Linked DNA regions of Homo sapiens. The protein of the gene in region 1 purifies or fractionates together with the protein of each later gene. This does not show direct contact. Each region holds a gene or a part of one and is shown in the gene's direction. Other genes may lie near its edges. The genes, in order: POU2F2 and CYRIB.

Region 1 (3,818 bases):
CCTGCCTTGGTCCCTTGCCTGGGAAGAGGGCGAGGAGGCCAGTGGTGGGGACGCAGAGGGTCCTCAGAGCAGGAGTGACAAGGGAGGAAAGACCAAAAAAACAACCAACCAAAAAAAAAAAAAAAAAGGAAAGAAACTAACCAACAAAAGAGAAAACCAAAAATAATCACAACAGAAACCAGCTGCCCCAAAGGAACCAGAGGTGAAAAACAAACAAAAAAAAACCAAAAACAAACCAAAAAAAAAAAAAACCCACAAAATCAAACAAACCAAAAAACCAGTCGCGAGCCAGACCTCAGCGTGCTCACCCTCACTGCTACGACGCCAAATAAAAACCCCAGCCAGGGGCGGAGAAGCCTCCAGCAGGTCAGACCTCATGCCACCGAGCCCTGGCTGTGGGACCAACCCCCAACCCTGCCTCCCCCGTGGGGGCTACAGAAGGAAAAAGAGAAGATGCCAGCTTCCTAATCCCAGCCCCCAGCCCTGGGCCAGCGAAGACAGGGCACAGCCTGGGCAGATGGGCTGGGGCTTAGCACCACCCACCAAATGTTCTTTTCCAGAAGGTGAAAGAGAAAGGGCCTGAACAACCTTACACCAAATATTCAGTAGCTTCATCCAAAGGATGTACAGAATTTTTAGCATTGTGCTCAACAGAATGTGTCCCTACCATGTGTCCCCTTCTCCCCTGGCCCCCAGCTCTCCCCACCTGGGCAGGGGGTCTTGCTTTAACCTCCTCCCTCCCCCCAGCAGGGGAGAGTTCAAGGGAAGGCCTGCGGACAACTTTTCATCCCCTGTTCCTCCCTCTTTTCCCCTTTGAAGGGTGGGCTAGGCCATTTTGCCAAGTTCTAGCTCTCACAAGTCCCTCCTCAACCCTGTCACCCTCCTCTGCTCTGGAACTGACTCCCTCCCCAGCCTATGGGAAGGTGGAAATTTCAGGCAAGAGGGGATGAAGACATTCAGTTGAGGGCATTCAGTTGTCTTTTTCCATCCTGTCTGTTTCCCTGAAAAAAAAAAAAATTCATATTCCAGTGCCTATCCGTGGGATCCTTCACGTTCTTTGACATTAACCAGAAACCAAAAAGAGAACTCACCTCGCTTTTCCCACCCTGTGCCCCTCTGGTACTGGCGAATGCCTCTCCCTCCCCCCACATGCACGCACGCACACACCCCAGTGGTGGGGTTCCTCGAGATGGCATCCCCATCAGGGTCCATGTGGTGGGGACAGTGCCACAGCCTGTGGTCCCCATCTGAGAGGGCGCGGTGGTGGCCACCACTCCCACAAGACCTCCACAACTCTTGGCTGGACCCTGTGTTTGACCAGCCCCGGACACGTCTCCACTGACGACGGACAGAGGAGAGACACCACTGGGAGCCACCCTGCCCTCCTGCTATTGTGGAGGCCAACAAAGTTTTGAACCGAAAACCAAAAAAACAGAAACAAACAAACAATAAATTTAAACTAGAAAAAAAATTTATATATATATATAAACATATATATATATATATATATAAAAGGGAAAGAAGATGAGGACTCTTCAAGAATAAGATGGAACCGCGAGGCGGAGCCAAGCCCCTGCACCGGTGGTCCAGGCCCTTGTTCCCCAAGGCGGATGGAAGGACGGATGCTTCTTTCTCTTCACAAATACCTCATGGACGTTGTCTTTGGGAAAGCCGGAGGGGGCGGCTGGGGCAGGGCCTGTCCCTCGGCCAGGGCAGATGGAAGCGGGTGGGCGGGGCTGAGAGAGGGTATCAGGGACAGGGGTGAAGAGCCCCAAACTCCCCTCCCAAATCAACTGAAAAAGCTTTAAAAAAAGACAGGAAAAAAAGGAGTAAGAAAGCAAAAAGAACAGATGAAGGAAAACTTAACAACTTTTGGGTGGTTTGATTCCTCCTTTGATTTCTTTTTCGGTTCTCTTTTGTCTGACCTCTCTCCTCCCCTCCTTCCTCTCTCCTCCCCTCCTTCCTCTCTCCTCTCCTCCTTCCTGTCTCCTCTCTCTCCCTTTGCTCTCCTCTCTTCTCTCTCAATCTTGTTCTTTCTGTGTCTCTCCTCAAACCAAAGTGTTGCAGTGAAGGACACGAGCCATTGAAATCAGGGTGGGGCCTGACAGCCGTAGTGTGGCCCCTGCCCCTTGTTGGGCAGGAGCAGAGAGAGAGGAGAGCCCTGAGACCGCAGGGCTTTGGCCTGGGCAGCTTCCACTTTCTGCCGGACACTCTGAGGAGAGGCAGATGGAGCTCCAGGCCTCAGCGTTCTCTTTTTTCCTTGTCTCCCTTCTCCCACCCGGGAAATGAAACTGTTGGGCTGGGCGACGGAGGCAGCAGAGACTCGGCCATTGCAGGGGCCTCTGGGTGCCTTGTCCGGGCAGTGGTGAAGTAGCCGCCCCTCCCACCCCGGCACGATGGGGCCTGGCACCTCGTCTACCCAACCTCACCGGAATGTAAGCATCTCCGCTGAACGACTCCCTGCCCTTACCCTACCTCTGAGTTTGTCCATGTTTATTTCCTGAAGAGAGAAGGGACTGGCAAGAGGGCTTGGGCCCCAGCCCAAGGGTGGAGAGGGGGCCAAGGGCTCCTGACCAAATAGGAAGGACATTTGAGCAGAGCAAAATGAAAGGAATTACAACCAAAAACCCCCTCCGAGAAGACAGGCAGCATGGAAGGCATGGTGGAGATGACTCAAACAAAAACTATGATTCTAGACCAAAAAGGAAAAAAAAAAAAAAAAAAGGAAAGAAAATCCAGGACTCACCACCACCCACTTCATCCTGCTTCCTCCCCATCAAGTCCCACCACCTGGGACCTCTCCCCACCCCAGTATGTGGGAGTGGGGTAAAGAGGAGAGGAGGAGCAGGGGGCAGGGATGGGGCAGATGCCCTGATGTTGGTGGAGGGACCCCTGTGCAGCCGGGGGTGCTGGGGACCCTCCCCATCCAACCCTCACACCTAGGAAAAGAAAAACAAGAAAAAAAAATTCCTGGGAGGGGGAAAAATAACCAAATCCCAAGCTTTAACTACAGCTGTGAAACCAAATATTGGGAAGGGGGTAGGAGGGAGGGAGGGGCAGGTGAGCCCCAGGTCTCCCCCTGGGCCCCCCTCCCCTGAGGACTCGAGATAAGGCACCAAATACCTCATAGAACTTTAATGTTAAAAAAAGGAAACCAAATATCGTTGGCTGGGGGCCAGCCAGGGCAAGGGGCTGGGGGGCTGGAGGGAGCCAGGGTTGGGAAGGTGATGGGGGAATTCATGCCCCCCACCCCCATCTGCCCCTTACACTCTGGTCCCCCGTCTCGACTCCGGGAAACAAAACTATCTCATCGTTTTTATTTTGTGGTCTGTACAGAGCCTGTGTCCGTGTGTCTGTGTATGAGCGAGAGAGTTGGAGGGCTGGGGAGCTTTATGTGGGGGATGGGGAGGGCAACCCCAGGCTAGGCTATGGGCTAGGTTAGATGTCCGAGGTTGGGGGCCAAGGGCCTGGGCTAGAAAGAGAGGAGAGATGAGTGGGTTGGAGCAGTGGGGAGCCCTCTGAATTTCTCTTCTCCCCAACCCTGACCTCCTACTTAAGGGAGGGACAGAGACTGGGTCTACCCTAATGGTGGGCCTTTTCATTGTGCCAAAAAAAAAAAAAAAAAAATTGATGCCAGTAACTAAACCACCTCTCTCTGTTCTCTTCTGGGGGGTGGGGTGGGTGTGTGTGTGGGGGTGGGTAGGGATGGGGAACCCAAGCCCCAGTAGGAGTTGGGGCTGAGATCAGGAGGAGGGGAAGGATATGAGTTTTCCATCCATCTCCCTGGAGAAGGCCATGACGGGCTCTCCAAGCCCTGG
Region 2 (3,552 bases), on another chromosome or scaffold:
TTTGTCTTCCTTTGCCCCCCAGTCATCCAAAAGGTTAAAAAATAGAATTAGCTCACAGTCCACAAAAAAATTGGTGGATTGGATGGCCCATGGGCTATAATTTGCCAGCCTCTGGGATAGAACAGCATTTTCTTCTGAGGGAGAAGTTACAGCTAATTGTTTACTTGAGAGGTCAACCAATCATTTCAGCAGTGTAGTTGTAACTAAGTTAAATAGCTGCTAAATAGCTACTGGCTATTCAGTTAGAAAGGGGGTGAGGATGACAGGCTGTGCAGAACCTGAACAGGGTTAAAGCTACAATGAGAAGCCATAATTTTGTGAGTTTTGCTGAGACCAATTCTCCATCCTGTCATAATTAGAGAACCCGATGCTGATTATTTTTTAAGTTCCTAAAATTGATCTTTTTTCTTTTCTTTTTTTAGGTACACAACAAAACATTTGAATGATGAGACTACCTCCAAGCAAATTAAATCCATGCTGCAATAACAATTCTGGAATAAGCACCTGCTGTAGACAGAAGACAGTATTCTGCAATGACTGAGAATGCAGTTTTTTAGTGATTGCAATTACTATCTCATTTATTCTTGCTTTTATTTCTTTCCTCTGTTCCTCTTCCCTCTTTTTTAATCATGTTCTTAAGACTTCTTTTCTGTGCCAAAATCAGTAAAGTTACACTCTGAAGGGATATCATCCTTTCAAACGGGCCATCTAAGGCAGCTAATTATGCATTGCATTGGGGTCTCTACTGAGAAAAATTCTGTGACTTGAACTAAATATTTTTAAATGTGGATTTTTTTTGAAACTAATATTTAATATTGCTTCTCCTGCATGGCAAAACTGCCTATTCTGCTATTTAAAAACCCTCAATGACTTTATTTTCTACTGCCGCCTTTTTCATGTGCAACCAAAATGAAAATGTTTAAATTAACTGTGTTGTACAAATGGTACCCAACACAAACTTTTTTTAAATTAGTAATACTTTTGTTTAAAGTTTTAAGTTTGCATTTTGACTTTTTTTGTAAGGATGTATGTTGTGTGTTTAACCTTTATTAACTAACGTTAAAAGCTGTGATGTGTGCGTAGAATATTACGTATGCATGTTCATGTCTAAAGAATGGCTGTTGATGATAAAATAAAAATCAGCTTTCATTTTTCTAAGTGTGGCTTGGTTTACTGATGTTTTGTTTTTAGGCTTCTGAAGTTTTCCCCATGTATGTTTTTATGGAATGCATATATACATTACATGATTTTTTCTTCTTTTAGGGGAGAGCCGGGTCTTTTCATTAGAATTTTGATCATTGTCTATGTATATACTTTTAATTGCCTTTAAAATTTTGCTAAGTATATTAAGACCAGTGATCTTTTCATTAACTGGACTTTTATTCTTGATTTACTCTTGTATGGATGTAGTAATGGAAGGAAAACCGCATCCTTGCTTGATTCTCCATTTCCAGGGGAGCGGGTAGCAACATGAAGGCAGAGTAGCCCTTTAATCATGGGAAGAGAGTGATTATAAGAGGGACTTCCCAGGAGAAAAGCAGAGGCCATGATCTCACTAGTGGTAGAAAACTAACAGGTTTCAGTTTAAGATCATAAAACCTAAATCATGAAATCTAAATCTCATGGTTGGAACAAACTACTTAAAGGTTGTCTAGTTCAACCATGCCAGTGTTTTAAATATTTAGGAATATCCGAGGTATAATACAATTAAAATGTTTAACCATGGAAGAGAATCACAGAGGCTTCCATCAGACCCTTCTGGATTAATAGGGCCAGATCATGGCACACACAGCTTCTCAAGATCACATCCCTGCTGATCTCTCTGGCCCTCCTGATCACTGCTCCCCCACTTCACACCCTGTCCTGCAGCCAGGCCCTACTGCTTGCTGTTCACAAATTGTTCCATGTGATGTCACTTCCTTAGCTCTGGTCTGGCTGGTCCCTGAACCTGACATTCCCTTCCTCCCCTTGTGACCCTCTAATGAACGCCAACTTTCATCTTTGAAGGGTTAGCTTCTATTACCTCCTTCATGAAGCCTTCTGGATAACATTGGCCATATCCTTCTAGGCATCTTCTAAGAATAGTGTAATAGGCTGAATAGTGGCCCCCAGGAGATACATTCACTGGGAATCTCCACGTGTGACATTATTTGGAAAAAGTTTTTGCAGATGAAATCAAGGACCTGGAAATGAGATCAACCTGTAGTAGGGTGGGCCCTAAATTCAATGACTAGCTCTTAGAAAAGAAGGGGAAATAGACACACAGAGCTGAAGGCCATGGGAAGATGGAGGCAGAGATTAGAGCAATGCATCTATGAGCCAAAGAACCCTAAGAATTGGAGGAAGTCACTAGAAGCTAGGAAAACAGGCATGTCACAGATTCTCCCTCAGAGTCTCGAGAAGGAACCAACCCTACCAATATCTTGATTTCAGACATCTGGCCTCCAGGATTGTGAGGGAATAAATTTCTGTTGTTTTAAGCCATGCAGTTTGTGGTATTTTGGTACAGCAGCCTTAAGAATCTGATACATGTATCTCGTAAAACACCTCTGATACTTACCTGCGCTTGTGGCTGTGTTTTCTGATACTATGAGAGCCGTAGTATCTGGATACCGGAGAGTCTGCGAACTTGAGAGAAGGGCCGTGTCTGATTTTCCTTCAGTGTCCCAAGGAAGGATCTTGCACAGTACCCAGATTTGGAGAGGTGCCAAGTGAATGCTTCGGTGGACTGAATGAATACAAATCAAAAATAATGATGCAGCGGGAATGGATGCAGTAAGATTGCTGTGGCCTATGCAGTTCACACAGTTCACACTCTGCATGTTGAGGAGTAAGTGGACAGATCTCTTAAGCCCAGGGGCTAGCAAACCGGTCTGTGGGCCAATTTACTCACCGTCTGTTTTTGTACAGCTTGTGAGCTAAAAATGGTTTTTAAAAAGGTTGAATACAATCAAAAGAATAATATTTTGTGGCATGAGAAAAGCATATGAAATTCAAATTTTAGTGTTCATAAATAAAATTTTATTGGAACCTAAGCCTCACTCATTTGTTGACACATTATTTATCGAGACTTTTGCATGACAGCAGCAGAATTGAGTTGTGACAAAGACCATATGGCCCTCAAAAGCTAAAATATATTTACTATCTGGCCCTTTCCAGAAAGAATTTTCCTCTCCTTCCACTAGATCCAAGAGTAGGTTTATCTGAGAACCTAGTGTGATTGAAGCTGAGGGCTGCAGTGTGATCAAAGGAGACAGCTCTGCTGCCAAAAGATGATTCAACCTCAGAGCTAGTACTTGCCAGTCAGATAGCCAAAGAGAGCAAGCAGGCATCTTCTCTGCCAACTCTATCTGTAGTTCTCATGTCTGTCCTTGGAGTGAAGTATTATGGGGGGTAGGCATGGACTTAGCCAGTGTATTAGTCCATTTGCACACTACTAATAAATACCCCAATACTGGGCAATTTATGAAAGAGAGGTTTAATTGACTTACAGTTCCATGTGGCTGGGGAGGCCTCACAATCATGGGAGAAGGTGAAAGGCACATCTCACTT

Evidence for each region.
Region 2: the proteins of POU2F2 (region 1) and CYRIB purify together in Homo sapiens (affinity purification with mass spectrometry; one large-scale study listed by BioGRID and IntAct). This does not show direct contact.

The regions. Positions count from the first base shown.
Region 1 is NC_000019.10:42,087,404-42,091,221, reverse strand, and holds part of POU2F2 (POU domain, class 2, transcription factor 2), read left to right. Parts: 3' UTR 1-3,818. UniProt on the Homo sapiens protein: Transcription factor that specifically binds to the octamer motif (5'-ATTTGCAT-3'). Regulates IL6 expression in B cells with POU2AF1. Regulates transcription in a number of tissues in addition to activating immunoglobulin gene expression.
Region 2 is NC_000008.11:129,839,076-129,842,627, reverse strand, and holds the end of CYRIB (CYFIP-related Rac1 interactor B), read left to right. Parts: intron 1-422; coding exon 423-486; 3' UTR 487-3,035; downstream 3,036-3,552. UniProt on the Homo sapiens protein: Negatively regulates RAC1 signaling and RAC1-driven cytoskeletal remodeling. Regulates chemotaxis, cell migration and epithelial polarization by controlling the polarity, plasticity, duration and extent of protrusions.